Linked DNA regions of Homo sapiens: region 1 is linked to region 2. The links come from fine-mapping of genetic effects on gene expression. A gene starts in region 2. The other region holds a variant in brackets. All regions are shown on one strand. Distances are from middle to middle.

The links.
Region 1: its variant is fine-mapped to the expression of ANKRD44-AS1 in whole blood (INTERVAL, PIP above 0.99).

The regions. Positions count from the first base shown.
Region 1 is chr2:197,313,182-197,329,866 of GRCh38, reverse strand. It overlaps ANKRD44-DT (ANKRD44 divergent transcript), which reads right to left. Exons shown (of 4, transcript XR_923750.3): 2 at 15,550-15,678; 3 at 15,383-15,398; 4 at 10,987-11,230. Among named protein-coding and RNA genes, the nearest start is that of ANKRD44-DT, 10 kb to the right of the region's middle. The variant T/GT (reference allele first, on the strand shown) is at 9,078.
Region 2 is chr2:197,190,992-197,207,676 of GRCh38, reverse strand. It overlaps ANKRD44-AS1 (ANKRD44 antisense RNA 1), which reads right to left and starts at 9,686. Exons shown (of 2, transcript NR_135584.1): 1 at 9,588-9,686; 2 at 8,404-8,759. All of the region lies in intron 1 of ANKRD44 (ankyrin repeat domain 44), which reads left to right. RefSeq lists enhancers at 1,749-1,938, 8,571-8,640.

The sequences.
Region 1 (16,685 bases), 120 kb before region 2:
TTAAGATAGAGATCATGTGGCCTGCAAAATCTAAAATATTTGCTCTTTGGCTCTTTATAGTTAAAAAAAAAAAAGGCTGCCACCTGGTGTATGGGAGCACTACTAATTTTTGTATATGTGTTTTATATTGAGCAACCTGGCTGAACTGTCTTACTAGTGCTAATGACTTATATGTTAATTCTCTTAGATTGTTTTGTAAACTATTATATTGTCTATGATTAATGACACTTTTGTTTTTTCCTTTCCAGACCTTATGCTAGCTTACTTCTTTTGAGGAATGTTGAGTAGAAGTAGTGATAGCAGACCAGACATGGTGGCTCACACCTGTAATCCCAGCACTTTGGGAGGCCGAGGAGGGCACATCACCTAAGCTCAAGAGTTTGAGACCAGCCTGGCTAACATGGTGAAACCCTGTTTCTACTAAAAATTCAAAAAAAAAAAAAAATTAGGTGGGTGTGGTGGCATGCGCCTGTAATCCCAGCTACTTGGGAGGCTGAGGCAGGAGAATTGCTTGAACCCAGGAGGCAGAGGTTGCAGTGAGCCAAGATGGCGCCATTACACTCCAGCTTAGGCAACAAGAGTGAAACTCTGCTTCAAAAAAAAAAAAAAAAAAAATGTAGTGAAAGCTGGCCTCCTAGCTTTGTTCCTGACTTTAAAGAAAATGCTTCTAACTTTTCACCATGAAGTAACAGGTTTGCTTTCAATTTTTGGTAAATACCAAATATCAAATTAAGGAAGTTGTTCTCTATTTTTCTACATTTACCTTTAAAAGTTGTTTCTTAATTATCAATGAATGCTGAGTTTATCAAATGCTTTTTTGATACCTATCGAACACCTATTGGATCGCATGTTTTTCTTTTGATTCTTTGACCATTGTGTATTATAGTATGAAAAATCATTAGAACGAATAATATCTATTTGTATTTTTCTTCTGGTTTTCTAATTTCCTTTCTCTTCCATGCTTTGGCAATTTGACATCTATTTAACCACATAAAGTTATCAAATTAAAATGAACTTCTTGACAATAACTATAGAGGATGTTTCTGACTGTGTCTGAGCTGAAACTGGTTAAGTGGTGTCAATTCACAGTACACCACAGGAAAGTCTGCAAGATCGTTCCTACATTCAGAGATGAGAGAGAGGGAAGTGCGAGGACAGTATACTGCTTGGTCTCCATCGCTTCAGACCCATGCAGTAGGTATGAATTCTCTAGAGAGACTATGGTATCCACATTTCTGCATGGACCAGCGCATAGCATTGGCCCTATGTGGCCTGAAGGGTTAGCAATGTCACTCAGCATATCAAAGATTTTTACAGGTTTGGCAGCACTGATGACTATTATGAAGAGAATATCTTTTCTCTGAGCTTCAGCAGAACAGTGGCAAGACAACGGGATGGCAAGGGGTTGCAGGGGCTCAGCAGACTCAGTAGGTTCCCAGCAAATCCCTGAGGGAGAGTAGCAGTTCCTAGTGTTGATTTATTCCTCAACACTTGTGAGACACCCTTATGACTTTCTAGCATCACTTAGGGTCTGGAGTGGAGGTAGGGAGCTCATAGCCAGGAACATATTTGGGTTTAATTGTTAATGTAACCTTAGGCTCTTGGGGCTTGAGGAATTAGGGCTCCATATCCCTACCTGCAGCATTCTAAGAGTTTTTTCACTTAAAGTTTTTGCATGTCAGTAAGATCTATTGTAGACCTTGCAGTACTCCTAAAGACTTACCAGAGACTATTTGGTGGATTTTATATTTGCCAGCTTATTTTTCACCATGGGCCATGCACTGGCAGTTACACAGCAGAGAAAGAGTAAATGTGAAACATGCAAGCACATTTCGGGACTCTTTTGCTTTGTTCTTAATTTCCTTGCAAATGCTACATCCAACCACCAAAGTGCCAGACAGTAAATCTTAATTCTTTCCTGTTTCTACAGAAATTGAGGGTGCTTTCCTATGGGTTCTATCATTGCTGGTTGACAGCTACATGTTCCACAGACTGGATGGAAAAACCCAGCTGTATCTTTGTGTCTCTGAATGTCATTAACTAATTTTCAAGTATTCAATGAAACCACAGATAGACTTGGCCAAGTATTTTTCCCCCTGAGTTTTGGAAAATATGCACATCTTAAAAAATATATTGCATATGTTCCTTATTTACTTACCACCAAATGTTCCAAATCTTGCATTATAGGAGTTAGAGACTGTCCAAAGAGCTCATTGAACCATTTTTGAAAATGTTCTTTTACAAAAACAGGAAGTCACAATATACCAAATGTCAAGTAACTTTGAATTTCAGAGGAGTTGGATTAGGTTCAAAACTTTTGAAATCATAAAGTTGAGCTGGTTCTAAATCAGAGTGTTGACTAGTCCCCTACTTTCTAATTATTTTTCCTCTTCTATGCTCATGTGTGTGTATGTGTATGTATATGGTACACACTTCTCATACACTCTAAAGTGCAATGATGAGAGGAAGAAATTTCCATGTTTTGATTACTTTAAATTTGGGGAGGAAGAAAAATCATCTTGTGGTTACAGACTCAGAAGTTCAGACTTGGTATTTCAGAATCAGAGGATATTTAATCCTCTATAAGCAGTGTGATTTCAGTCTTGTTGTCTGTCATTGGTTAAAGCCACTGAAACTGGGGACATTTACACTTAATAATTTACTTTAGAGACTTATTTTGGCTGAGCACAGTGGCTCACGTCTGTAATCCCAACACTTTGGGAGGCTGAAGCAGGTGGATCACCTAACGTCAGGAGTTCGAGACCAGCCTGATCAATATGGTGAAACCCTGTCTCTACTAAAAATACAAAAATTAGCCGGGCGTGGTGACGTGCACCTGTAGTCTCAGCTGCTTGGGAGGCTGAGACAAGAGAATTGCTTGAACCCAGGAGGCAGAGGTTGCAGTGAGCTGAGATCGCACCATTGCACTCCAGCCTGGGCAACAGAGAGAGATTCGGTCTCAAAAAAAAAAATGTATTTCACAGAGTACCTATTATGTTATTGAAAAAGGTGCTTTGTAAAGAAAACAAAAAGTGTGTATGGTACACATTTTAGCTGTTTGCATGGGGTAATGTGTAAACAATAGAAATTGATTTCTTACAGTTCTGGAAGTTGGGGAGTCCAAGGGCAAGATGCAGCCATTTGTTGTTTGGTAAGGGCCTTCTTGCTGCATTCTCCCATGGCAGATGGGGCGATACCATGTCCTCACATGGCAGAAGGCTGAAGGGCAAGAAAAGACCTAAACTAGCTCCTTCCAGCTCTTTTACAAGGCACCAATCCATTCATGAGGGTACAGCCCACACAACTTAATCACTTCCTAAAATGCCCCACCTCTTAATACCACTACAATGGGAATTAAGTTTCAACATGAAGTTTGAAGGAGACACATTCAAACAATGGCAGTGTATGTTATAGATTGAGTCTATGATTTTTTTTTTTTTTTTTTTGGCTGGGGGTCAGGAGAGAGACTTGGAAATATTCCAAGACCTGAAAACAGCAAAAAACTGACATAATGCTATGTTCTACATTTCCTTAATGGACAGAACTGTATAAGATGATTTAGAATGAGCAGCTGACTTTTGGAGAATGAAGAATGCACTAGCTTCTTCACAATGTCCTAAACATTGGAAGAGGTAACTTTTGTTTAGCTAATAAAAATTTTAACTGAAGATGTATTATGTGATCAGGTATGGTGTATGTTTGGGATAAAAAGGTGAATTTAAAATGAGCCTGGCCCTCGAAGAGTCTACACTAGAGTGGGAAACAGACAACTCATTGTTGTTTAAAGTGGAAAGTCCAATAGAAGTGCTTATATCAGGTATAGACATTGTACAAAGGATTAACTGTGTCTGGGGTGGTGAGGGAGAGATGGTGAGGAATTTACAGCACCTAGCACTGTGGATGGCACATAGTAGAGACTCAATAAATGTTAGTTCCCTTCTCTCCTTCCTTTATTTATTTATTTATTTTTTTGAGACGGAGTCTCGCTCTGTCGCCCAGGCTGGAGTGCAGTGGCATGATCTCGGCTCACTGCAAACTCCATCTCCCGGGTTCACGCCATTCTCCTGCCTCAGCCTCCTGAGTAGCTGGGACTACAGGCAGCTGCCACCACGCCCGGCTATTTTTTTGTATTTTTAGTAGAGACGGGGTTTCACCGTGTTATCCAGGATGGTCTCGATCTCCTGACCTCGTGATCCGCCCAACTCAGCTTCCCAAAGTGCTGGGATTACAGGCGTGAGCCACTGCGCCCGGCCCCTCTCCTTCCTTTAGATATAATGTGTTGACCGTTATATACAAAGATTATGATGCCACTGTGTCCTAACAGCAAGGAATTATGAATTTAGCATTCCTTTCTGGCCAGGTGGGGTGGCTCATGCCTGTAATCCCAGCACTTTGGGATGCCAAGGCAGGTGGATCACTTGAGGTCAAGAGTTCAAGACCAGCCTGGCCAACATGGTGAAACCCCATCTCTACAAAAAACTACAAAAATTAGTCTTGATGGCCAGGCTTGATGCGGGCTCCTGTAGTGTAGTCTCAGCTACTTGGGAGGCTGAGTCAGGAGAATTGCTTGAATATGGGAGGTGGAGGTTGCAGTGAGCTGAGATTGCACCACTGCACTCCAGCCTGGGTGACAGAGTGAGACCCTGTCTCAACAAAACAAAACAAAACAAAAGGAATTATTTTCTTGTGGACAGTTAGCACTAATTCCTCTATATTTAGAAATTTTTGATTCTTCTGGGGACCAGTGACCAATATTTACAAAATTGTTCAACAGTTTAATGGGTAAGCTAGGAACAGAAAGCAGACCCACAAATTAATAATCAACTATAAACTTGACCCTGGATATAAGTGTACCAGCCACATTTGTGAGAGTTCCTGAGCCAGGTTTCTGTTTTTGTTTCATTTCAGCAGCATAGAAGGTCACCAAACTTCTAAAAGCAACACTTATTAAACTTTTCCTAGGCCCTCAAAGAGCATAAGTGAATAAAGACTTATTCCTAGAGCTTGGGAGTGTGAAGGTTTGGTGAGGGGTGGATTGGAGGGAGATAGTGTGGAGAGGTCCATTGCAAACACAAAATGCGTGGGGTCTCAGGTTGATTTAAAAGATGTATGCAAATGTTACACTCCATGCCATACTATATCTGTTTGCTTATGTAAATATGAAAATACTGCTTCAAGTTACCTACCAAGTTAAGTGACTTAATTCCCCGAATCATTAAATCCAACTGATGCCCAAGGAAGAAGGGCTGTGTTTATTCTTTGACTATCTGAGCCCCTCGTTCACCATTTTCAGCAACTTGGTCTTTTTTACAAAAATTAATTAATTAAATAAATGAACAAATATCAGAAACTTGATCTTAATAACATATATATCTTAATATGTGTGACAAAATTGATATATATTATGTATATGACATATAAATCAATATACAGCACTGGTTGTGTGACCAATTAATAAGCGGAAGTTGTAGCTTGATTACTACATTCCTCATTTCCCACCTTTTGAAACATTCTGGCTTCTCATCCTAGTTCAGAAATAAGATGCAGAATTTGCACTCACTTCAGCAGCACAGGCATTAGTTCTTATACATGATAGGGTGGAAATGTGTCTCTCTTGCTTCTCTCTGCAGAAAATCATCTCATTCCTTGTCACTTTCTCATTATCATAATGCCATACCAATTGTTCAGTCTCCTTCTCTCTCATTTACGTATTTCTTTCCATTTTTCAAAGCATTTTCATATACATTTTATTATATGATTCTCCACGGTATTGAGGACAGGCATCCTTAGCCTCATTTGACTAGTAGTAAACTAAGGTTTGATGAGATTAAATTATTTACTCAAAGTTACATTCATTCAAAAGTATTTGCTCTGTATCTACTATGTGCCAGATACTATACAATGAACTAGAAACATCAAGGTGGATTAAACACAGTCCATGCCCTAAAAGAGGGAGACAGAAAAGTAATCCGGCAATTATAGGATGAAGGGATAAATACAATAATAGGGGTTAAGCAGAGGGCACTAAACATAAACCTTAGGGATACTCCTAATCCAAACTTGGGAGGTGAAGTGAGTAAGGGAAAATTCATGGGGTTAGTGATATCTAAACTGAGATCTGAAGTACAAGATTAACCAGAAGAAAATGATATCGAGGTGGGTAAAAGTATAAACAGGAAACAGCAATATGCAAAGGCTCAGAGAGAGAAGAAATATGCATCGGGGAGCTGCTTTCAGCACAGTGTATAAAGTGTGACACGGAGGCAAGGTTGCCCTGTTTAGGCACACAGATTGTGCACTGCACTACTCCAGCAGTTATCATTCACAGACTAGGCTGGGAATGGCATCCCCCAGAGTTGAGCAATGTGGCTTCTCTGCAAGAAGAATGATGGGTGGGGAATGTGAGGACTCTGAACATCATGCATGCTGAGGTGTTTGTAAACAGGCTGAAGGCAATGGAAAGCCATTGGAGGGGTTGTGGCTTGATTAGGCTTGTCTTTCAGAAGATTGTTCTGCCTGTGGGGTGGAGAATAGATCAGAAGAAACCAATGCTTATCAGCCTTCCAATCAGTAGATAAACATGAGACTGGCCTGGAGTGAGGTCCAGGAAGATCAGAGTTAGGGACAGATTCAAGAGATTTAAAGAACGTGGATTGACAAGACTCGGTAACTGGCAGGATGTGAGAGATGAGAGGGAAACGGAGATACCAAGTGTGAGCCCCAGCATTTGTTCTTAGATCAACACTGGGTCCAGGGTGGTGTCATTTACCGAGGAGGGGGGAACACTGGAGGAGGAAGATTATTAATTTTTGTTTTGGACATGCTGAGTATGAGGTGATTTTGAGACATCCGAGAGAGAAGCAGGCAGCTTGGTGGGACTGGAGGTCGGGAGAAACAATGAGGGTCTAAGACAGAGTGTTGTCAGCATGGACCTGTGTGGAACTGATCAGAGTCATTGTGGTTTCAGGACAGTGGGCTCAGGGGCACCCTGTGGAGTGGCGGAGGAGGTGAGGAAGTGGAGATCAGAAAAAAAGAGACATTTATTTTGAGAAGTTTGGCTGTGAAGGAGAAGAAAGAGGGGCATTTAAATTTTGTGAATTTGGGCCTGGTGCGGTGGGTCATGCCTATAATCCAAGCACTTTGGGAGGCCGAGGTGGGCAGATCACTTGAGGACAGAAATTTGAGACCAGCCTGGCCAACATGGTGAAACCCTGTCTCTACCAAAAATACAAAAATTAGCTGGGCATGGTGGTGCACACCTATAAACCCAGCTACTTGGGAAGCTGAGGCAGGAGAATCACTTGAACCCAGAAGGCGGAGGTTGCAGTGAGCCAAGATTGTACCACTGCACTCCAGCCTGGGCGACAAGAGTGAGACTTCGTCTCAAAAATAAAATAAAATAAAAAAATGTGAATTTGGGCTATCAATTTTCTGCAGGAAGGTTGAGAATGGTTGCTGAGACTCTACAGTGTCCTGGTGAAGTTTAAGGACCATAATTGCATGCTAAAATGCCCAGTCAGGGTTTTTCTCTCTTTTAAAGGAGCTTGGTGCTTCCATCTACATTTCTTTGCAGCTTCTCTTCTTTCCTCCCTCCTTTATCCCTTTGTATTCTATGGTGAATCTTACTTTCTCACCTTCCACTGTTTTATTTTTTCCAGGACAGCTGTCTGAAGAAGTTAAAAATAAATGGAATAACATTTTTAAAACCACAGTAAAATGCAGAAGTTTTAATACAGAACAAACACAATATTCATTTCAGCAATGCCTCAGAGGAGGCACTGTAATAACTTACTTCTTTTTTTTTTTTTTTCTTTTTTGAGGCAGGGTCTGGTTCTGTTGCCCAGGCTGGAGTGCAATGGCATGATCATAGTTCACTGCAGCCTCCACCTATTGGGCTCAAACCATCCTCCCACCTCAGCCTCCCAAGTAGCTGGGACTGCACCAAGCCCTGCTAAGTTTTGTATTTTTGGTAAAGATGGAGTCTCACCATGTTGCCCAGGCTGGTCTCAAGTTCCTGAGCTCAAGTGATCCTCCCACCTTAGCCTCCCAAAGTGCTGGGATTACAAATGTGAGCCACTGTGCCTGGCTAACTTACTCCTTCTACTTGTTCTATTTCTCAATTGTTTTTTCTGTTGTTGGTTTTTATACTTTCTGTAGGAGGTGAGATTACAAGTAGGCATTCACAGAAAAACTTAGTATATATTGAATAGAATTGCCAGCTAATATTGCCTCCAATTGCATGCTTTTAAAATCAAGCAGTTTGTCATTATTTATCGAATTCATGCAAAGAAGTGTAAGGCATGTCTAGTACCCATTAGAAGTTTATAATGAGAAAAACAACACATATAAAAAACAAAGCATGTGAAATTATGGAAGGCTAACACCCATAAAACAAAGAGAATAGATGATCAATAGCAAATAAAACAATGAAATATTTAATCGAATGATACTGTTTATAAGTTTGTTAGCAGGTCAAGGAAAATAAGGATCAAGAGCCAAGGAAGGCATTCCCTGGGATAAAGATAATAAATTTCAACAAATCAACACTAAAAGTAACTTTATAATATTGATTTAAAAAACCGTATTTCTTCAATTCTAAGGTGTCATCTTTTCACATTTTAATATCATAGATATAATAGCTAACATTCATCTTGCACTTACTTTGTACCAGGTTCTGTTACATGCGCTTTACATGTGCTGACTCACAGAGTATGGTGTATTTCATCTTGCATTTACTTTGTACCAGGTTCCGTTATGTGTGCTTTACATGTGCTGGCTCATAGAATATGGGATATTTCATGGAGTGAAAAATTTCATCTTCTGCTCTCTGAAAAGTTGTTTTTAAACCAATTTTACAAACTTAAACTCCATGACTGTTTAGAATCCAGGAACCATTGTAGGTGCAGAAATAAACAGTGCTTACAGATATACGTTAATAAAAATTACATTGAGGAAATGTTCTAATTTCCTTAGCCTAGATTGATAGGCCCTTGGTTTTGTTTTGTGAAGGTCATTTGATACCCCTAAGACATCTGTGGATCTTCTGTAACTTAGCCATTCAGTCAAGGGGCACAATA[T/GT]TTCAAAATAGAAAAGTCTCCGTGTGAAGAGAGTGCAGAGCCTCATCAGGATTTAACCTCATGCAGCAATCATCATTATCTGCCTCTACTTGTGGTTTGCACCCAGGTCAGGGAGATGGCTCTGATTTATTTACAAACAGGATGAACTATCTAAGCCACTAGTGTGAAGCCAAAATATATAATTATATTGGGTTGGGTTCTCCAGGCAACAGTCTCTGAGATGGAGAATTGTATGCAGGTTATTTACTGGGGAATGTTTTCAGGCACAACCCTGGTGGGGATGAGGAGAGCAGGACTGGGTAGAAGGAGAAGTTGATCTGTGATGCATTTGCAGCACAGGCCCCAGCAGATCCCAGAGGGAGTGTTGGAGCTAAGATGTGCTTTCGGAGATGTCCTTAGTTGAGGCAAAAGGGGCTGGGCCTTTGTACTCTCAAATTCACTGGATATGAATAGTTTCAAGGGAGGGACTGTAATGAGGTGAGGTGGTTGCTTCTGACTGAGGGTAATTCCTGAAGGAAGAATCAGCTTCAAGCTATCAGCAGGCAACACTCTCTGCAGTTGGGGGCATAAAGCCTTTGGTCCTGAATGTGGGAACTGGGTGGCACACTACAGCATCCACGACAGTGAAATACTGTGTATTCATAAGTTTATATGTTGATATGGTTTGGGTGTGTCCCCACCAAAATCTCATCTTAAATTGTAGCTCTTATAATTTCCTCTTATCGTGGGAGGGACCTGGTGGGAGGTAATTCAATCATGGGGGTGGGTCTTTCCCATGCTGTTCTCATGATAGTGGATAATATGTCTCATGAGAGCTGATGGTTTTATAAAGGGGAGTTGCCCTACACAAGCTCTCTTCCCTGCCACCATGTAAAACATGACTTTGCTCCTCTTTTGTCTTCTGCCATGATTGTGAGGACTCCCCAGCCATGTGGAACTGTGAGTCAATTAAATCTCTTTTCTTTATAAACTACCCAGTCACGGGCAGTCCTTTATAGCAGCATGAGAATGGACTAATACATATGTTTTATATAAACATATAAAATACAAACACAGATATACAGATATACACACACATTTACGTGCACATTTATATTTATAAAATTTAAAAAAGCATACATCAAGTAAATAAAACAACCATAGCGAAATGTGATATGGTATATTGGGTAGATTTAGTAAAGTCATAGGCTATGGTCACTACAGTACACAGTTCTCGGCCTTGCTCTTTAGGGAATGTTTTTGAAATTTGAGAGAACATATTTGGTTGTCACAAAGAATGGAATGCCCAAGCATCTATTGATTGGAAATTAAAGATGCTAGCTGTCCTGGAAAGTGGTCTTTCAAATGTCCCACTGGATATTCATGTAGGTAAAAATCTGTCTGCAATTATCTTAGCCTGGAACTTAACCCGTTTTACATATAAACACAATGTTTTAGTTTAGTTTAGATTTTTTTCATTCTAGGAATGTAACTGTGTTGTGGTATCAGTCAGGATCTAGTCAGGAAAACAATCTACATTATTATTATTTTTTGAGATGGAGTCTTGCTCTGTTACCCAGGCTGGAGTGCAATGTCATGATCTCTGCTCACCGCAACCTCCACCTCCCAGGTTCAAACGATTCTCCTGCCTCAGCCTCCCAAGTAGCTGGGATTACAGGTGCCCACCACCACACGGAGCTAATTTTTGTATTTTTAGTAGAGATGGGGTTTCACCATGTTGACCAGGCTGGTCTTGAACTCTTGACCTCAAGTGATCCGCCAGCCTCAGCCTCCCAAAGTGCTGGGATTACAAGTGTGAGCACTGCACCTGGCTCAACCTACATTATTTTAACAGAAATAACCCTTTCCCGTTTGCCCCGAGAATATGCGCCAGCAGCGCTTGTGGATGCAATGTTTACCCTGAGATAACTTTGCCATGAAATATCTCACTTTTATTATTTTTGCATCGCTCTGACATATTGACCTTGAAAACAAAAGACGTCATTCTATTTATAGCATTCTGTTTCTAGTAGTGGCATTTCTGTTTACAAAATATAGTAATTCTCGATTGCTGAAAATGTCAAATTCTAGAAAACGTAGCATTCCTACACGTGATGTTAACAGCGTTCTTGAACAGTTGTTGACTGAAGAGTCACTTGATGAATCTGATTTTTCTGAAATAGATGATTTTGATGTTAGTTCTGTTTAGAAATAACTCCAAGAACAGTTTTTAGATTTTATTTTCACATTGAAAATCAGATTTGCTTCAACCTCAAAGGGCGTGTTTATGTAAAATCAAATGAGTGCAGGCAGTGAGCTATACTTTTTTTTTTTTGTTTGTTTGTTTTGTTGTTGTTGTTGAGATGGAGTTTTGCCCTTGTTGCCCAGGCCAGAGTGCAATGGTGCGATCTCGGCTCACCACAACCTCTGCCTCCTGGATTCAAACGATTCTCCCGCCTCAGCTTCCCTAGTAACTGGGATTACAGGTGCATACCACCACGCCCAGCTAATTTTTTTTTTTTTTTTTTTTTTTTGTATTTTTAGTAGACATGGGGTTTCACCATGTTAGCCAGGCTGGTCTTGAACTCCTGACCCCAAGTGGTCCACCCGCCTCGGCCTCCTAAAATGCTGGGATTACAAGAATGAGCCACCATGCCCAGTCAGCTATACTTTTGTTTCTAAACAAGAAAAGGGTTAATATGAGGAATTGCTTAAATAGTCCTGTTTAATATGGGGAATTGTTTAAATAGGTGTTAGAGGACTGAAAAAACAAAAAGGGAACACAGAGATAGTAACTTTAAGAAGCAGCTACCACCAGTAGGGCTGGGAACAATGGGAAAAGGTTAGTTATTAGAACGAAAAGCTTGGAAGAGAGGCCCTTTTCTTCTCTTCATATCTTCACTCCTGAAGGGTCTGAATCCATTTTTTAATCCTTTTAAAAAATTATAGTAGCTTCCATCAACTTTTATTATAGGATATGGAAGTGCTAAGGGGTACCACAGAAAATCCAGAACATAGTCCTTCCTGTCCCAATCGTCCTCCCTGTCCCCATCGTCCTCCCTGTTCCCACTGTGTTGTAGCAAACCAATTTCCTCTTGATAATGGGAATCAGTAACCCCACCCAGAAAGGTAACCCCTGCTTTTCCTGTTGTTTCCATAGCATGTGGAACCGAAAGTGGACACATCCCAGTCTTAGCTTCTAATTCAATGAAACCATAATTGTGATCCCTGGTGGGAACCCTCCCTTGGGAAGCAACACCCCCAAACCAGCAGAGCTCAAAGCAAAACAGGCACTGGAAGCAAAAACTGTATGAGTGGATTATTGGGTGTAATGATGAAAAGAACCACTTCTACTACAACCACCACTCCCTTCTCCCTCCCAGCCCCACCCTTGATTCTTGGACCTTGTATTTTGGGGGAAGCAGTACTATGTACTGACTCCTGACTCAAAGCATTTTCTGTGTCCTCCAAGAGGTAACTTCACTATGTTAGTGTGGTGTTTCCCAGCTGGTGCTGGAACTCAGTCTTCAGTAGAACTCCATCATCCTTCCAGGTGAGCTGCTTCTGGCTGATGAGGTATTGATAAGACTGGTAAATTCCATTTACATGAGTCCTTTGCTGCATTTCTTTTGCCATGAGATGAGTTCCTCAGAAAGAAGTAATATTGTGTAGACTATATAACAGTGAGTAAGATACAACATAAGTCATGGATGGTAGTTCTGTCAGAAACACTCTCTGGGCCGGGCATGGTGGCTTATGCCTGTAATTCCCGCACTTTGGGAGGCGGAGCAGGCAGATTACCTAAGGTGAGGAGTTCTGAGACCAGCCTGGTCAACATGGTGAAACCCCATCTCTACTAAAAATGTAAAAATTAGCCAGGTGTGGTGGCGCATGCCTGTAGTTCCAGCTACTTTGGAGGCTGAGGCAGGAGAATCACTTGAACCCCGGAGGTGGAGGTTGCAATGAGCCGAGATCATGCTACTGCACTCCAGCCTGGGCAACAGAGCCAGACTCCATCTCCAAAAAGAAAAGAAACACTCGCTGGGCACAAATCCATATCAGCTGGGCATGGAGGCTTACACCTATAATCCTAGCACTTTGGGAGGCTGAGATGGGTGGATCACTTGAGGCCAGGGGTTGAGACCAGCCTAGTCAACATGATGAAACCCTGTCTCTACTAAAAGTACAAAAATTAGCTGGGCGTAGTGGCACACTCCTGTGATCCCAGCTATGCAGGATGCTGAGGTGCGAGAATCGCTTGAATCTGGGAGGCAGTGATTGCAGTGAGCTGAGATCACGCCACTGCACTCCAGCCTGGGCAACAGAGCAAGACCCTACCTGAAAAAAAAAAAAAAAACAAGAAAGGAAAAGAAAACAAATTCATATCCACAATATGTGTCTACTCTAGTGAAGACAAGTAACTGTTCCCTCCATGAAGGAAGGGTTCCAAAATAATCAATTTGCTACCACATGGCTGACTAGTCTCCCTTGGAAATGGTGCCTCTCAATGTGTGATTTCTGATGTTGTCAGATATCAGCCTTACTGCAGAGAAGCCTAAGATTTGAAGCCCAAACATAGTCTTTATTCCTGACTCCATGGCTACTTTGAGCAAGCACTGCAATAGGTGGAGAAAGAGGCCCACTCCACCGAATGTGTCATTCACCTAATTACTAAAAGCCTTCTCAGAGTAGATGCTCTGTGGTGAGCATTCACATGGCACACAAATTCCTCACACTTTGTGCCTATTCTGAAAGGTGCACCCACAAACCTCTTTCCCGGACCACCTCATCTTTCCAAGTTGCTGACCATTCAGCAAAACCATCAATAATTGCCTGTGAATGAGTGTAGATCTATACCTTTGACCGTCTCTCTCAATCCAGACAAAGTAGACCCTAGGTGCGCTGCTGGAAATTTCTTGCACTGAGAAAATTTCCCTTCAGTACTGTCATCGGGGGCATTCCTTATTGAGACTGTGATGCTGGAATAGACCACTTCCAGCTTGTGCCAGTATATTTAGGAGAACTGTCTGTAAATCAGTTAACTGGTCTTAAGAAATTCCCCATGAAGTTGAAGATAAGGAGGCACCAGGAGTAAGTATCAAAGGAATCTGAGCTACCTGCTAAGGCAACTTGTGCTTTCTGGACCTGCTTAAGCTCAGTCTCTTACATACCATTTCCATTTGATGAGGAATTCCTCTTGTGTATGTCTGGTCTTATGGATTGGTAGATTAGATTACACTCAGTTCATAATGGGCAGCTGAGCTTGCAGTCACTTGATTGTCTCATGGCCAGTCATTCAAATTCACTTAGCAAGCTAGGGACCATTCCTCAAATAGAAAATTGTTATCTGCAGAAGAGGGCATGACTTGCTCTACAACTAAGGAATTCTGCATTGTAGATCTAATCAGGGCTCACCAGAGGCTCTATATAGCATCCTTATTTGCCACAGACACTTTAAGTATCATTGGATTCCTCTGGGTCATCAAGTCCTGCTACAGATATTTCTTCTCCCCTTATTCCTAATAAAAAATTCCAGCCTTATGGGTTGCTCTATAAATGGGTCACAGCATCACACTCAGATGTGATACATATTGCCTCTAAAATCCAAGGATACCCAGAAAGTATTGTGTCTCTTTTCTTAGTGGTAGATGGTACAAGGTGAAGTAATTTGTCTTTTACGTTGGGGAGAATATCCTGGTGTTTTCTAGACCACTGGACCTCCAGAAACTTCACTAAGGTGATGAATTTTCTTGGGGTTTATACCCAATCTCTGGCTCACATGTGTGTTGTTAAGGCAGCTAAAATATTTGTTACTTCCTGTTTATCAGGGCCAGTCAGCTCGATGTCTTTAACATAGTGATCAAGACCTGTGCAGATGAGATTATGCCAGAGAGTGGGAGTGTTTACATCCCCTAGAGAAGACTGTAAAGGTGTACTGTTGATCTTGCCATATAAAAGAAAACAACTTTTGGTGAAAATTGAAATAGATAAAAAGCATTTGCCATATCAATAGTGCACACCAGGTGCCTAGGGCTGAGTTGCTTTGTTGCGGTAAAGACAGCATATATAGAATAGCAGCTGCAACTGACATTACCATTTGATTAAGTTTACAACTTAATAACAAATCATAGTTATTCTCTAAGATCTTTTGCATAGGCCCAACAGGTGAGTTAAATGGAGATGTGACAGTATTATCATTCCTGTATCTTCTACGTCTTTTCTGGTGGTACCAATTTCTACATATTTCCAGGGATTGAGCATTGTTGTTGGTTTTCTATTCTGGTATCAAGAGGAAATTCCAGAGGCTTCCATTTGGCCTGTCTTACCATAATAAACTTCACTCTGTGGGTCAGAGAAATGATGTTAGGATTCTGTTAGTTACTGAGTATGTCTATTCTAACTAACAGTTGAGGAGATAACTATAGTTTGGGTCTGCAGAGCTACTGGATCCACACTGATTTATACTTAGTTAAAAATTTCATTTATCACCTACCATAGATCCCCATTTTGATTGGTGGATCCAGTGGTGTTTGCAATCCTCAGGAATTAGCATTAATTCAGAAGCAGTGTCAGTGATCCCTCAAATGTCTGGGTATTTCCTTTTTCCCAGTACTCGCTCAGCCTAGAAAAATACATCAGGTTCCTTTGGATAAGGCTTGGATGAGGATTTGTAGTATATATTTATGACAATGCTGCAAGACCCTCCTGAAGGGGACCAGCTTCCCTTTTAATCAAGGAGCTCTGTGTCTGTGAACTCATTTAGGTACGGAAACTGAATGAAAGATAATTTCATTTTGATGGCTCAAGGGAGCTTTCAGGTGGCAGATGTAGAGTTTTGTCTGTTATAAAGATCAATGGCTATTTCCAAAGTCTGCCCGTCTATTTCATTCCTAGGACAACCTAGGGCACTGCCAGATATACCTGTAGGTTAAGACCTTTAAGTACTACTTTGTCTCTGCTGTCCATTACAGTAAATGTGTCCACCTTGTCTCTGCCAGCTAAGTGCTGCCACTTGGCCATTGCTGTCGCAGGATCCCACTAATATAAAAATCAAGGAGCCATCTCAACGAAAGCATCTCCCACCATCATATCCAGCTACTAGAGAGTTTTTCTGACGTTCTCTCTCGAATGTATTTTTCTTTCCTTTTCTTTTTTTTTCTTTTTGACAGAGTCTTGCTTTGTTGCCCAGGCTGGAGTGCAATGGCGCGTCATTGGCTCAGTGCAACCTCTGCCTCCTGGGTTCAAGCGACTCTCGTGACTCAGCCTCCCAAGTAGCTGGAACTACAGGTGCATGCCACCACGCCTGGCTAATTTTTTGTATTTTTAGTAGAGACGGGGTTTCACCATGTTAGCCAGGCTGGTCTGGAACTCCTGACCTCAGGTGATCCACCTGCTTCAGCCTCCCAAAGTGCTGGGATTATAGGCATAAGCCATGGTGCCTGGCCTGTATTTTTCAATGCTTCAGTATAAAGATCATCATCTGGCTCTCCAGGAATATGTAGGGGTTGGCTGTACAGATTATACATGATAAAATTATTCCAACATTCCCATCTCCACAAATCTTTGGATTTCTTTCTCTACATTATACCAGGGGCATTCTGGCTTCTCAAGCTCACCGAATATAGTCAA
Region 2 (16,685 bases):
AGGTCTATCATAATCTCATGAAAGAGCACCATGGCAAAGGAAGAAACGAGAAGAGGATCTTTCTCAGTGATTTGAGATCAGTGGTGAGCTGGTGTTAAGAGTAGTGTTTCAAGAGAAAAACAGAAAGGGAAGGGAACATTTTCATTTTCTAATATATGTTTTTCTCTGCTGGCCTTTGAGATGCCAGAATGATAAAAATCAGAGGGGTCATCTGAGAGGTGGCAAAAAATAAAAATCACCTCTAAAAGAGAAGCAGCTTAATGTGCCATCCGCAGGCACAGCTGTTTAATCATGGGTGATTATTACACTGGGATAGACTAAAAGAATTAAAAGAATGTTGTGGCTGTGATTTAAACAATGAGGACTCTGGTAAGAACGTCCTGGCCTCATTGGTGAACTAGGACTGCAACCTGAATGGAGTTATTGAATAAATTGATAGCACAGTTTTCAGACACCTGCCCCCTTCCCTCCATGCCATGATTTTCCAGTTGCTTGCTCTGTGGCCAATTTTGGGGTAGATCCAAACTTGCTTCTTCAGCACCTAGCAACAATCTCAAATGCCACAAGAAGAGTTTTAATTTAATTTAGTGCACGGCCACATTTAGTAAGTTTTTGAGAATGTTCCTAATTTATTAGCTTAAAATCTTATCACGATTTTTAAATCCATCACTTCTCTTCAAAGAATGATGAATTAAAATGTAGGTAAATTTTTCTTACTTTCCTTGAATGAAATACACTGAGAGCAGACAGTCTGATTGACACTGTTATGTATGAACATGAGGGACGTAATTCTAAAGAGTACTGGCCTTGCAATAACTCTTTAGATTTATCTTATGTGACTCCTATGCTTAATGACTCTTTGACAATTGATGATGGAGGAGCCAGTCCTGTACATCCTTTCCCTACTATGTTATTATTGATAACATAATCAACCAAAATGCTTTTTGTTTGTTTGTTTTGAGACGGAGGAGTCTCGCTCTGTCGCTCAGGCTGGAGTGTAGTGGCGCCATGTCGGCTCACTGCAATCTCTGCCTCCCAGGTTCAAGCCATTCTCCTACCTCTGCCTCCCAGGTTCAAGCCATTCTCCTACCTCAGCCTCCCGAGTAGCTGGGATTACAGGCGTGTGCCACCATGCCTGGCCGATTTTTGTATTTTTAGTAGAGATGGGTTTTGCCATATTGGCCAGGCTGGTCTCAAACTCCTGACCTCAGGTGATCCGCCCACCTCTACCTCCCAAAGTGCTGGGATTACAGGCACGAGCCACTACGCCTTGCCTTATTTAATACTTTTGAAATTACTTCCCTAAACATCTTTTCCCTAGCAGAGCGCTAACAGTGTGAACTTCACGGCAGCAGAGACTATGTTTGTTTTCACCCATGCTTGTATGTCCAGCCTAGGCAGAATGGCCAGCACATAAGAAGGGCTCTGTAATATTATTTACTGAAAGAATGAGTGAAAAAACATCATCTCTATGCTGCACATCTTCTGTCGTGCCACCACTTTTGTGTGGCTTGTCATCCCCTCTTAGCTGAATGACTGCCACAGCCTCCCTTGTGTTCTCTCCGCCAATCCATTCTCCTCTCCGCAGCCAGTCTGAGCTACTAAAATGTGCATCTGCATATGTCACCCCCTTCTGTTCAGTCTTACTTGCTTCCTGTTTCTCTGAGGTTAGTGACAAAGTCTCAGCGTGGCCAGCCCCACCTTACAATTTCACTCCTTGCATCCCACACTCCAGCCTCTGAACTAGTCACATTTCCCCACACCTGGTAGGCTTAGGCTCCCTCTGATCTTTGGGTCTCTGTAGATGTTACACCTTCACCTAGGAATCTCTTTTCCCCAGCTTAGCTGTCACCTCCTCTCTGAAGCCTTCCCTGATGACACAAGGCTGGGTTGGGTGTCCCTCCCATATGACCCTGTTGCTTCCACCGTGATGTCACTGTTTACTTTTCTTCCTCCTCTCTAGATTCGAAGCTTCTTGAGCCTGGGACTGTATCTTGATCATTGCAGAATCCTTGCCACCTAATGCATTGCCTGGCCCACCATCGGCACTTGGAGAAATGATTGTTGAGTGGGCAAGAAGAGGGCAATATGGCATAGTTGAACTAGCATGGGATCTGGAGCTGGAAAGATCTTCCCAGTGACTGGCAGTCACCTTGGGCCATCCCCAAACTCCCCAAGCCCCAGTTTCTTTCTCAGGGAAATGGGGTGGAGGACATCACTTCGCAACTCACCAGGTTGTTCTGAAAAATACAGTGAGATGACATAAGGAAAGCAGCACAGGGCCTGCTCCATAATGAGCTCTGGTACATTGTTCTTCCTTTCCTCAATCCCTCCTTCCCTTCCTTACTGGCCAGGTGGGTAAAACCATGGATCAGAATACTAGAATTCCAGTGTTACAGTCAAAGATTAAGTGGTTCTAAATCATCTAGAACCAGAAATAACATTTGACCCAGCAATACTATTACTGGGTATATACCCAAAGGGGATGCTTTTTAAAAATACACACTCCTGGACCTTACTCTGTGGTTCTGGGACAGGGTCCAGGAGTCTGTATGCTTTGTTTCAAGTTTCTAATGTGCAGCCACAATTGGGAGCTTTTGACCTAGTCCAACTTCTGACCCAAAGCAGGAATCCTGGTTATGTAGCCTTTGCTGGAGCACATCAGGGATGGGCAGCTCGCTGCATTTTGAAGCTGTTTCTTGCTGGACAGCTGCTCTAATAGAGACCTCTCCCTTATAGACTGTGCCCCATTCTGCTTCTCTGATAACACCCAGCCTTTAGATCGGGTTCTGCCTTCTAGAGACACATGAATTAACCTACACCATCTTCCACATAGTCATTTTTCAGATACTTGATGTTACTAGTACTATATCCCTTCAAAGGTTTTTCTTTTCCAGCCTAAACATTCCTGTTCTTATAAACTAGAATTTGCTAACTGGAGCCTGCGGGCTACATCCGGTCCACAGATGTGTTTTGTTTGGCCTGTGGTGTTTGAAAAATATTGAATAAGTTGCCAACATTTAAAAATCAGGGCATTTCACTGAAACGTCTGGAGCTCTGGCATCTCTTGAAAACTCAAAAGATCTGGAGCCACAATTTTATCTTTGGACAGGACATAAATTCTCCAGATTGTTGCAGCCTTCACCACTCTATGCTCTTGTCTAGCCCCCTACCTGAATCATTATGTCACATGTTTCCAGACCCTTCGTTATTCTCATTTTCTTTTCCTAGCTGTGATGCAAAGTGTCAGTGGTCCCATCTTTAAAGAAAATTTTTCTTTTTATGTTTACAAAAATGATAGTTAACAATAATAATAAACATAATATTATAGAAAATTTGGAAATTACAAAAAAAGAAAGTGTATCTGCCAATAACCCTGTTTAGCATTTTTATAAATTTTCTTCTAGTCCTTGTTTTTCTGTGCATATTTATATGCTATGAAGCTGAGATCAAACTGTATATAGTTTCATAGACTGCTTTTTTTCCACATTTTCCTCATCTCATTAAACTCCCTCAAAAGGCCAATTTTAATAAGTAAAATATTCTGTTTTATGTATCATAATTTTTTTTATTGTGGCAAAATACACCTAACATGATATTTACCATTTTAACCATTTTAAAAGGTACATTCACAGTGTTGTGCAGCCATTATTACTAATTCCAGAACATTTTCACCACCCCAAATGAAACTCTGTATCCATGAAGCAGTCACTTCCCGTTCCCTCCCGATCCCTGGTAACTGCTAATCAGCTTTCTGTTTCTATGTGTGGCTATTTCATATAAATGGAATCATACAGCCTGTGGCCTTTTGTGTCTGGCTTCTTGCACTTAGCATAATGTTTCCAAGGTTCATCCATGTTGTAGCATCTATCATTATACGCTGTTCCTTTTCATGGCTGAGTAATATTTTACTCTACGGCTGTACCACATTTGGTTTATCCATTCATCAGTTGATGCCGGTTGGTGGACACTTGGGTTGTTTCTACCTTTTGACTGTTGTGAATAGTACTGCTGTGGACATTTAGGTACACGTTTTTGCTTCAACACCTATTTTCAGTTCTTTGGGATATACACATAGCAGTGGAATTTCTGAATTATATGGTAATTCCATGTTTAACTTATTGAGGAACTACCAAGCTAAATAGCTAAATAAAATTCCACAGCAGCTGCACTATTATACATTCCAATCAGCAATGTTCCAATTTCTTCACATTCTTCCCAACACTGTTTTCTGGGTTTCGTTTGTTTGTTTTGTTTTAGCCATCTAGTGTGTGTGAAATGGTATCTCACACACACCAGAAATGGTGAAGTAGTTCTTAGAGATTTATATTCTCTAAAGACTGATGTTAAGCATCTTTTCATGTGCTTTTTGGCCATTTGTATATCTTTTTTGGTTTATATATTATAACTTGCTCAATAATTTCCCTAGCTTTGACATTGGTTCCCTTTTAATTTTTCCTGTCATAAATAGTGTTGTTATGAACATCTTTATACAAAAATTGTCTGTATATCTCATTATTTCTATAGGACAGCCTCCCTGAAGAGGGACTGTGGGGTCAAAGGAGTAGGATTTCGAAGGTATTGAGATGAAGAATCAGATTCAGTGCTGCATGTATGTTGAAGCTGTATGAGTCACCTGGAGAGCCTTTGCAAGCGCTTGTGCTAGGATTTGCATCCCTAACACTACCTCAGGCTTATTGGGGTGGGACCTAGTTTCCCAGGGGATTTTGATATGCAATCCAGCCAAAAAACATCAGCCAAATTTCTTCTGCATCCATTTAGGTCTTAAAAAAAAAAAAGGCCAGGCGTGGTGGCTCACACCTGTAATCCCAGCACTTTAGGAGGCTAAGGCGGGTGGATCACTTGAGCCCAGGAGTTCAAGACCAGCCTGTCCAACATGACGAGACCCCCTCTCTACAAAAATTTTTTAGAAAAATTAGCTGGGTGTGGTGGTGCACACCTGTAGTCCCAGCTATTTGGGAGGCTGATGGGGGAGGCTCACCTGACCCCAGGGAGGTCGAGCTTGCAGTGAACTGTGGTTATGCCACTGCACTCCAGCCTGGGGGACAGAGCAAGACCCTATCTTAAAACAAACAAAAAACAAAAAAGAGGCCTGTAAGATCTGCACGAAATTGTCCACTACTCTGACCAGTTCTGAGCAGCTTGGTCCTGCTACTTCCCCTGCTGTGTGCATCAAGCTTGGTCGTCTAGCTCTTCTGGCAGAGTGAGATTATAGTCACCTAGACCACCCCTTATTGGGTTTTTTTTTTTTCCATCTGAAATCTCATCTTTTCCCTTATTGTTCTTGGAGGAGTCGATCATTTTGGACCTATCTTTTCTGGTAAGAAAACAGAGGTTTCTGCCTGCTCTGTGACTTGCCCTCCGTTATGTAACACCTACTGATCAAGGGTAGACCAGGACTCCTGGCGCATCAGTTAATTTCTTTCCACTCCCTTCAATGGCCTTGTTTCATCATTTTTGATTGGTCACAATTCAAGAAGCAAAAAGTTGCTGCACAGTGCCAAATGTACCAAGTACTCTAAAAGTGAGAGCAAGCCTCTGCGTGCCTGGGCAGGCCACTGCTGTCACAGGCCACCTGCCTTTCACCAAGTCCACTTCTATCCCTGGGTGGAGGAGGGGCAGCTAAAAGTTCTCCTTTGTCAGGACAGTCAACCATGATCTCAAAAGAACTATGATTGTATTGTGCATTTTAAACCCTTGGAATGTTACATGGTGATGAGGTAACAGTGGCTATGAATGTTCTTACAAGTGGGAGCTGAGCATTGGGTACACAAGGACACAAAGATGGGAATAGTAAACACTGTGAATCCCAAAAGGGGGCAGGATGGGAGGAGGGCAAGAGATTAAAAACTACCTATGGGGCACTATGTTCACTACTTGGGCGATGGGATCATTAGAAGCCCAAACCTTAGCATCACACAGTATACCTGTGTAACAAACCTGCACATGTATCCCCTGCATCTGAAATAAAAACACAAAACACAAAAACAAAATATAAAAACAACAGCTCTGAGTTTTGACATAAGGTGTGCAGTGCAGATTCCCAAATCTAGATTTAACATGCGACGACACTAACAGGGTCTCCACATCATTCAGAGCCAACGTCAGGGGGATTGTTGGTGAGGAGAGGGGAGTGTGGATACCAGGAAAGGAACCAACCTCAGTTATGTCAGTTGGGCCAGAGGAGGCCAAAGGATCCTATCTCCCTGATGCCTTGTCTCAGACCTCAGTTGCCTTTGTGGTTGCCTAGTGCCACGGAGGCAACGGGCATTCAAAATTCTGCTAAATAAAAACACACAGCAAATTAGGTTTTATTTAAACTCAGTAACTTACTCTCCTTGTTAAAAACTCAGTAACTCACTCCCTTATTTTCTGTAATATGACTGTCAAGATTATGTCTTCACACGTGCCCTTCACATGAACATTCTGGGAGTGCATCTTGTTTTCCTAATGTTTAAAAAACATGCTGCAAGCTAATTTTAAACTGGGATGGGTAATGAAAAAGAGAGAATCATAGACTTCTCTGTGGCACCACCTCTCAGTTAAAAATTACCCATGCCTTTTTAATCTCTAGTCTTTGAGACTAAAAGCACATTAATCTACTTATTCCTAATTCATTTTCAGAATTTTCCCATAGAGCTACTTATATTCAGTCTCAAGGCATACTATATATCAGGACATACACTAAACTTTCAAATCATATTTAACAATTGATAAAATTTAAAACTTGTTATTAAATATTTTCATTTAAATGGATTTGGAGAAGTTGCAAACATACTATTGCAACATAGAGTGAAAGACCAACACTGTAGTGACTGTCGATGTAAACATTTTAACAAAGTTTTTGATTATCAAAAGAACTGAGGTCTTTTTGGTTGCTAAATTCCAGTCACTTCATTATTGCTTTCTTTCATGTTATTCATATTATTTTCCAGATGGGCAGGAGCAGCTTAAATGACTACTGTTGTTTGAAGGGCACAGCAAGCGTTGTATGTGTTTTGGCAGGGGGTAGCATAGGGCATGAGAAGGACAGGGAAGGAAGAGATTTGGAGGTAATTTCAAGCTCGTGCTGTCTGGAAGTAGTGCATTTTAAATTAGTGTTAGTGTGATGTTCTGCAGCAGCCAAGCTTGGGAATTTTTTATATCTTTAAGCAGAGTCTGGCGAGTGGTGGTGGTGGGAGGAGTATGAGAAGAGGGTGTTTAGAAATGCTGTAACTCAGGACATTCTCCTGAGCATATACATGTCTAAAGTCAGTGCTGTGCCCTGCCTCATTTGTCATTCCAAAATACATTTTTTTCCTTCCTCCATCTAAACCATGTTCAGGCCTTGTTCAAGTCCTGCCTCCTCCAGAGACACCACTCTGGCTTCTTAGCCTTTCATGCTTCCCCTTTTCTGAATCAAGAAGGCTCCTAGAATATTATGGCTAAAGGCACCTCCAGATTACCTCTCCAATCTGTCATTGTGCAGAAGGACAACTTGGCATCCATTTGCATGAGGTCTGTAGAACATGGTTCAGTACTGTCTTACACAGTTTAAGTGTTTTGTGTGGGTTAGGCTTATTTCCCCAACTATATTTGGCAGTCTTTTAGGAAAGGACTATGTCACACATTTCTTTTGTATATTTCATAAAAATAGCATATTGTAGGTACTCAGAAAATGCTTTTGGCTCTGGTAGCACTTCTCTGTGCAATGTGGATAAGCACTGATAGAGGCTTGTTTGTTGTGGTACAAACTAGAAACAACCCAAATGCCCATTCGAAGGGGAATAATTGAATATGTTATGGCATATCCATACAATGGAATAGTATTATATATAGTTATTAAGAGAAATGATTTAATCCTGTAGCTATCGACCTGGGGGATGTCCTCAGTACATCATTATTTTTGCAAATTGTAAGAGAGGGAAATAAGCCAGGCATGGTGGTATGCATCTGTAATCCAGACTACTTGGATTACAGATACTTGGGTGGGAGGATCGCTTGAACCCAAGAATTTGAGACCACCCTGGACAATATAGCAAGACCCCCATCTCAAAAAAAGTGTGTGTGTGGGAAATAGTAAAATCCCATTTTCTGATAATAAATAACGATAATCTCATATATCTGTATCTGTACCTACCAACAAGAACACGGGCTGTTCACATTTGTGGTAGGAAAGGTTATTAAGTTTTTTCTTTATCTGTTTTTGTATTGTTGCAACAGGAAACCTACTAAGATTAAAATCCAGCAAACATAAGACAAAGATAAAATGCACAGGGGTTTTGATGCATTAGGTGTTTCCCATAGTACTTCCTATTTTTCAAACTTCGTGTGATTAAAAAAGTAAGTTTTATCCCTGACTAAATTTCAGTGTGGAAATAAAGAAATAAAGATAGCATGTACTTGGCTTAGGTATACTTGTTTTGTTCTTTCAGCTCGTTACGTAAAGATACATTTTTTTTTCTTTCTCATGACATGAAGATAAGCTTTCTTCTTACCAAAACCTAAACTGTGAAGGCAGCACCCAAGCCAAAAGCCTCGAGGCTCTGGTTTCTGTGGTGGGATGGGGAGAGAAGTAGGTTGCACAGATGTAGGATGCCAGCTGACTTCAGAACTTCCGGTCTCAGAGCTAACCAGGCTCGGCAAGCCACAAGAGAGAAGGAGCTTGCATAGGTGGAAGAGCAAAGAAAGCCAGTGCTGCAGAACTTCCGGTGCTCCTCCGCCGATGTCGGGCTGGCGCTGCTCCCGAGCCCTGTGTCCTGTGGAAGAAGTTGGTGAGAATCGTTTTGAATGTAGGCAGCCACTCCTGAGGAGGCTAGCCCTTGCTACATTAAAGGTGGAGCTAGATTTACATTTTATTTTATTTTATTTTATTTTTTATTTTTCGAGATGGAGTCTTGCTGTCGCCCAGGCTGGAGTGCAGTAGCACGATTTCAGCTCACTGCAACCTCCACCTCCCGGGCTCAAGCGATTCACCTGCTTCAGCCTCCCGAGTAGCTGGGATTACAGGGGCACGCCACCATGCCTGGCTAATTTTTTGTATTTTTAGTAGAGACGGGGTTTCACCATGTTGGCCAGGCTGGTCTCAAACTCCTGGCCTCAGGTGATCCACCTGCCTCGGCCTCCCAAAGTGCTGGGATTACAGACGTGAGCCACCATGCCCGGTCAAATTTACCTTTTAGATTCACATATTACCACCAGAAGAATGCTTCCTCTGACAACTGAGCGGTACTCCATCCCCAGAGCCCTTTGTGCAGACTATTATTGCAGTTTCCTAACTTGTTATGACACTCCAGCCTTTTCCTCCAGGTCATCATACAATCCATTTTTAGAGTGATTGTTCTAAAGCACAAATCTTAGGTCACTCCCCTGCTCAAAAACCACCCACTGCTCCCCCAGTTCCACAGAAGAGAGCTCAAATTTCTTAGCTTGGTATTCAAGACCTTCCATGATAGGATCCCTGTCTACTACTCAGCTTACCTCACTTCTCCCCTCCTCCAGCCAAATGAAACTGTTCCCTGTGTATGTTCAGGCTCCCTAGCTTCTGCTCACAGCCTTCTGAATATGAAGAAGGGAAAGTCCCTTACCATTCCATCCGTCTCTACCTGTTTAAATCCTCCCCAGTCTTCAATATTCATTTCAGAGGCTGCGTCTTTCAGGAGGCCAGGTACAATTTCTCTCCCTTCTCCATGCACTTCTCCTGCGGCCTGTGCCTTACATTCTAGCTGTGCGTATTTGTATACTTCCTGTTACACCTTGGTAACCTCATCAAGGGAGAGACTGACTCTGACATTCCAGTGTCTGAATTTCTTTCTTTCTTTTTCTTTTTCTGTGTTTCTTTCTTTCTTTTTTTTTTTTTTTTTTTTTGAGACAGGATTTCACTCTGTCACCCAGGCTGGAGTGCAATGGTGTGAGCATGGCTCACTGCAGCCTCAATTTCCTGGGCTCAGTTGGTTCTCCCACCTCAGCCTCCCGAGTCGCTGGGACTACAGGTGTGCGCCACCGTGCCCAGCTAATTTTTGCATTTTTAGTGGAGATGTGGTTTCACCATGTGTCTAGGCTGGTCTGGAACTCCTGGATTCAAGTGATCCGCCTGCCTTGGTCTCCCAAAGTGTTGGGATTACAAGCATGAGCTACTGCGCCCGGCCTCCAGTGTCTGAATTTCTTATGCTCAGTAAATGTCTTATGCTTAATACATCTTTGTTGAATTGAATGTGGTTATCTGAAATGTACCAAATTAAGTTTTAGAAAACATATCTTTTATCCCCTGTTGGAGGGGGTAGTGTGTAAAGAAATAAAGGAGCTACGCACTGGGTTGGTGTCTGTGAAAGGAAATATGATATGACTTCTTTTTTTTTGCAGAATTTCCCATTTTCCCATTTTATATTATCGAATGTTTTCCAGTCTCTTAGGCTCCTCTCTCTTCCTGCTGCCTTATCCTTTCCCTTTGACATCTGTCACTGGATGTCCTTACCATGATTTTGGATGGGGAAATGAGAAGATGCTTCCTGAAAGACTACACTGAGGGGATTCTCTAATAGATTTTCATTCCATGTGACTTTTTCTGGCTGGGGAGGGAGTAGGGGACCTTCCAGTCATCTCAGGCAGAAACTAATTCAGGTCCTGATCAACCCACTGCCTTAAATTTTAGAATGGTTGCTATAACAATTTTAGAATGGTTGCTATAACAAGATGCCTTAGGAAAAAAAAAATTGACAATGGCCAGAACAGGAAGGTGACTCCGTTTTACACATGTCCCTAGTCCCTCACCTGTGGAGAGGTGGTGAGAGTTTAACTGCTTGCTGTCTTTCCAAGAATGCACGTGGAATTCAAAGAAAAGAACAGTAGAAGGGAAGGAGAGGGTTTAAAGGAAAATTGTCATGGGCTTTGGAAAGACCTGATTGTGTAAAAATTGCTTGCTGGTGTTTGGAAAGAACCCAGGTGCTAACAGATTTTAGACAAACCCAATCTGGAGTTGCCTAAATCATGAATGATTTAATGTGACTGAGTTAATCCATATATCTTGTATACAGTAGTTCCAGCCTCCTCAAATGTAGCAGGAGATTGCCACCTTTCTGAGAGTACCTTTCATTTCTACATGCTGATTTTGTTGTTGTTTTTAAAGGACACTTGAATTGCTTTATTTAGCTTCCAATTTGTGAGATTCTCAAAAATTAAAATTACTCATGACCACAAGAAGATACTTCTGTAGTTATGGATCATTTTCTGCTATTTTTTATAAGGAATACTTTTTTATTGTTGTCTTTTTTATAAGTGATGCACATACCAGGTAGTAATAAAAAGTCATGTTTTCCAGTGCACCCTAAAACTGAACTGCTGTCTCTATTTGAACAGACAAATAAATTATACTGAATATACCTACAACCCTGAAAATCATCTTCTGGCCATTTTTCTTTTTTCCCCACAAAGATCACTAAAGTGGTTTATATTGATTAACATTATTAAATCCACCTCTCATGTTTGCAACTACATGAATTCAATATGCAGTAAGATACAGTTATACAAAGAATGTAACCCAAGCCAAGATGAGAAATAAAACCTCTATACCAATTTTTCAAAACAGGAAACTGTTGCAGAAGTATATATAGTTGTTCTTTTTGTTTCACTAAAATTACATGGATTTAAATGTTCTGTATGAACTAACCTCCTGGATCCATTGTCCTTTTTGCCCAAATTAGCTTTCTTTAAAAGTTAACTCCCCAACACAATTTAATTATCTTAGCTAAAGTTTAGGTTTGATCTCAAGCCATTTGAAACTAGACAGAGTGAAAAAATCTGTGGGTAGTTGGCAGCAGATCCTGATAGAAATATGGCACTTGGCAAAGGCTGTCTGCCTTGTTTTGATTTGCCTTTCTCTTTATGGATGTGGCCTATTTTTGAAATGTTATGATTTAAATTCAGCGATCAAGTGACAAGTCTGACAAAACAGAGCTTACATCCGCAGAGGTTCTGTGGGGGAAAAAATGGAAATGTTCCAGAACTAAAGGAAGTAACCTCAGTTTCACCTGGAAACATTAGTGTTTCGGAGGCAAGGGATTTGGGCTATATATAAAGAGTGAAGGAAAGTGGCCAAGATGCTGGGCCAAAATTGCATCCAGGAATAGAGCAGACATTAAAGAACCAAAAACTATATCTGTTGTTTTCACCGTATCCCTGTAAGTAGCACCTGGGGAGACTGTGATTAAAAAAAAGATGGGAAAGTTCTTTCCTGTGATGGCTTGGATTGTAGCAACAGCCTTCTAACTGGGCCTCTAACTCCAATCTCTCCTTCTCCAGTACTCAGTGTACACTTTGGCCAGATTAAATTCTTGGGAAAACTCTATTCCTTTCTCCTGCTCATGACCCCCATTCCTGTTTGTCCATAAGATTAGGTAAAGGCTGGGTACAGTGCTCATGACTGTAATCCCAGCTCTTTGGGAGGCTGAGGCAGAAGAATTGCTTGAGGCCAGGGGTTCAAGAGCAGCCTGGGCAACATAGCGAGACCCTGTCTCCACAAAAAAATATTAAAAATTCACCAGGTTTAACAGTGGCCTGTGCCCATAGTCTGAATTACTTGGGAGGCTGAGGTGGGAGCATCGCTTGAGCCCAAGAGTTTGAGGTGGTAATGAGCTATATGATTGCACCAAAAAGATTAGGTTAAAGCTTCTTATGCTGATGTGATGCTCCCCCCACCCAGTTATTCATTTTTCTAACTTCATCTTCTATTATTTTCCAACATGAAAGATTTACTCTCCAGTCCCCAGTCTCATCCTTCAAAATTCTGCTTAGTGCCTACCTTCTTCATCTTTATAACTCAGACCCATGCGGAGCCCCCTCAACTTTGAAAGACTGTAGCCCTTTGTTTTCTGTCTTTTGGTAAGATTATTTTATTGTTAGCCATTTTGTTGCAAGGAATTATATCTATATCTATCTATCTATCTATGTATATGCATTTGGCCACTATTTGTGTAAATATATATGCATACGTATAGAGAGAATGTATCTCATATATGGCAGCTTTTTCCTTAGTGTATAATATTTCTCCATAGGAGGTATGTTGAAACTGAAGCTGAATTCTGATCATGAATTATATATATATTATATTACATGTGAGAGAAAGTACCAAGCTGCGAGAATCAGGAAAACTAAGTTCTAGTCTCAACTTTGTCACTAACAGGCAAATCATTAGACTTCGTCACAGCTCCAAACAGGGAATTCATTTCCTTTGTGTCTATCAGGAGATCACAAAAGAAAGGTGTAACTACATGTATTTATGACAACCTTAAGTAGTAAAATTACAATCTCAGGTCCCATTAAGCTGGCATGAATATATGCAGTTACCTTTTGATTAGTCAAGAAGAAATGATGTATTAGTTCAGTGAGTTATTGGCTTTATAGATTAGACTTCTGAGTACAGAGGGACTGTGTGACAATTTCGAGGTTGCTGAGTGTAACAAAGGCCAAGTCATGCTCAGTTTGATTTTTGCTCCCAGGCCTGTAAAAGCTTCTCTCCCAATATGATGGGCCCCTCTGCTTTAGAGGTGGTGTTGAGTGGGTTATAATCCTAACTCAATTTATTTACTCTGTAGTATTTTAGGAAATCTTTCAAGATCTCTTATTTTTCCTTTTTTAGGATGCACATAAAGGTACTTGTCTATGAAGGTTTTTGAGCTTGTTAAGGTAAACAATCATCCCTGTTTTTATTGCGTGCACACCAGGCATCTGGCCCCGTGCTGGGGGTGTTGCATATGTTGTGTTATTTTTTATTATTTATTTATGTATTTATTTATTTTTTGAGATGGAGTCCCTCTCTGTTGCCCAGGCTGGAGTGCAGTGGCGCGATCTCGGCTCACTGCAAGCTCTGCCTCCCGGGTTCACGCCATTCTCCTGCCTCAGCCTCCTGAGCAGCTGGGACTACGGGCGACCGCCACCAGGCCCGGCTAAGTTTTTTTTGTATTTTTAGTAGAGACGGGGTTTCACCGTGTTAGCCAGGATGGTCTCGATCTCCTGACCTCGTGATCCACCCTCCTCGGCCTCCCAAAGTGCTGGGATTACAGGTGTGAGCCACCGCGCCTGGCCGTTACGTTATTTTTTAAACACATCTATAAAATGGCTATTGTAACCCCATCTTAGAGATGAGAAAACTGAAACGGAAATGGATTGGATTTAATAATTGGTCAGTCTGATACCATAGCATTAATCTTTCTACTATGGAAAAAAAGGAGGTCAATAAAAATTAACATTTTAATCAATAAAAATTAACATTGCCTCCAGATTTCAATTTAACTGATACTGTTATTCCATCACTTCCTTTGGCCCAACTTTTTGTCTGTAACTGGTAACAAAGTTGAATTTTGTTTTACTTTGGGTTGGCCATCGGGTGAGGGTGATAACTAGTGGTATTAAAGAGCAGAGAAACACCCAAAGAGAATCTCAGGAAAGGAAGGAGCAACAAAGGATTAAATGTTCCAAAAATTGGGTAATTGGGGTAGTTGGTCCTTGAGTAACTATTTCATAGTCAGTACCCATGTGTTATTTTCATTGGGAAAAGATTAGGTAATAAATTAATTTTCTCCATTTTCTAATTAGATGTAATTCTTTTTTCATAATGTTAAATATAGAGTTAACAAATATGCTACTTGGAGGGCATGACTATAACATGGAATTTTATGTTTTTTCTGTTTTTAATAGTAATGGAAAATATTATATATATTTACTCTGCAGCATAGCCTGTAGGAGACATTTTCAGACATGCAGTCCTGCCTCACTCCCTGATTTTTTAAAAAATGTATTTATAAGGACTCAGTATATTTTTGTATTGTCCTTATGGTACTTAAGAGGAACAGATTTTGATTTTATGATAATCATTATCTTTCTGGGATGGAGTGAACTTCTCAAGTAAAGGGTGATCTATATTCAGGAAGAACTCAATGAAATCCTTGCAGGAGATCATACAGCAGAACTCACATGAATTCAGTTAGCAGGTTTTGTTCATTAAATCTAGTGACTTGAACAAATTTTTATTATCCTTTCACAAAAGTGCAAGCACTGGCTCCTACAAAAAACAGTTGTTACCTAACGAAGTGTTTCAGCTTGTTCATATAAGTTGATGGCTTCATATGGCTAGATTATTGCTGTATCAGCTATCAGCTACTGATAACACACTCCCATCTTACTTTAATGACATATGTACTCAGAATGCTCAAGGAGGGACAGATGTTTAGGAATATCAAATTTTCCTTCTTGGCTATTGATTGATTCCCAACACCCATTTCTGATTGGAATGCAAAATGTTTTTCTTTTAGACTTGGAGTCTTTATTTTCCCGATCTAATCAGAAAAACACAAGCAACACACCAGGATCTAGAATGAAATGCTGGAGCATCCCTGGATGCTGCTTGGGCTTATTACCATTGACTGTAGTTACCAATGCTCAATGACAGCCTCTGTCACTCTGCCTATCTTCCAAAGCCAATTCATTAGTACAGAGCATGCAACTCTGGCAAAGGGAAAGTGAAATATACTATACAGTGGTTTTAGCAAAAATCAAAATGGTGGTTTCATTAGGGGATTTTGCGGGATGTGGGAGGGCATTGATGACTTCATAGCCGGATGGAGTGGATACTCTAAACTAGCTTGGCTCTCTTTGTAGAACCCATGATGGGCTTCATTCTTAAATGGAGGGTGTGTCTGATGACATCAGTAGCATATTTTTTTCATGGAATTGACATAATAATTGAATTGGATTTCACAGATGATGAAAATGATACCTTAGCACGTAGGTTTTAGATAGTTTTATTCTTATTTCTAAAACCTGGATCCTCAGGGATCAATAGGAATTTTTTGTGTTTGGTGTTTTTTTGTTTGTTTGTTTTAGTATGTGCATGGTGTGCATGTTTACTTATGACTAAGAACTCTTTCAGAAGCTTGAGTTCTTTTATGTTTTTAATGAAGTGGATTTTTCAATTACCTTACTTCCTTAATTACACATCCTGAACCTTTGCTTTTACCTCCCAGGTAACAAATTACCATCTTGCTCCCCCTAGTGGAATTTTGACTCTACTTCAAAGTTTGAGAATAACTATCCCTAGTACATATTTGATTTAGCATTTTATTTTTGGAAGTCTGGTATTTTCCCAGTTTGTTTTCAGGGTGAGAATAAAAACAGAATATTTTATTGGATGTGCCGATAGGGGATGTGGGTAGAGAAAGTGGCTTTCGGCTGATTAGATTTCAGTTCCAAGGGTTAGCAAGTTCAGCTACAAAATTTATAAGATCAAGGGGTCTTTCTGTTCCCCATTTCTATCTTAGAGGGGTCAAGTGTCATCAGCTTGGCAGACATTCACCTCTAGAAGGCAGCCGTCAACACTCCTGGAAAGGTAGTAGGGGGCTAGTTGTTGGTGATTTTGAAGGCAAGGACAGGTCCCATCTGAACAACAAATCCCACTTGTGCTTTTGGTAAATTTGGCCCAGGAAGTGTCCTTCTGTCTTCTGAATCTACCAGAGGCACTGCACCAATATCTGCAGCACTGACAATCATTTTGCAGCTGCTAAGCATGCTAAGAAAATTCTAGCAATTGAAGCTAAAAAGACTGCATACCTCTCTTAGGAATTTAAATTTCTTTAGGGGATGATGATCAATGATTTCATGGTATCTGAATCTCCTTTTTTCCTACCACTATTTGT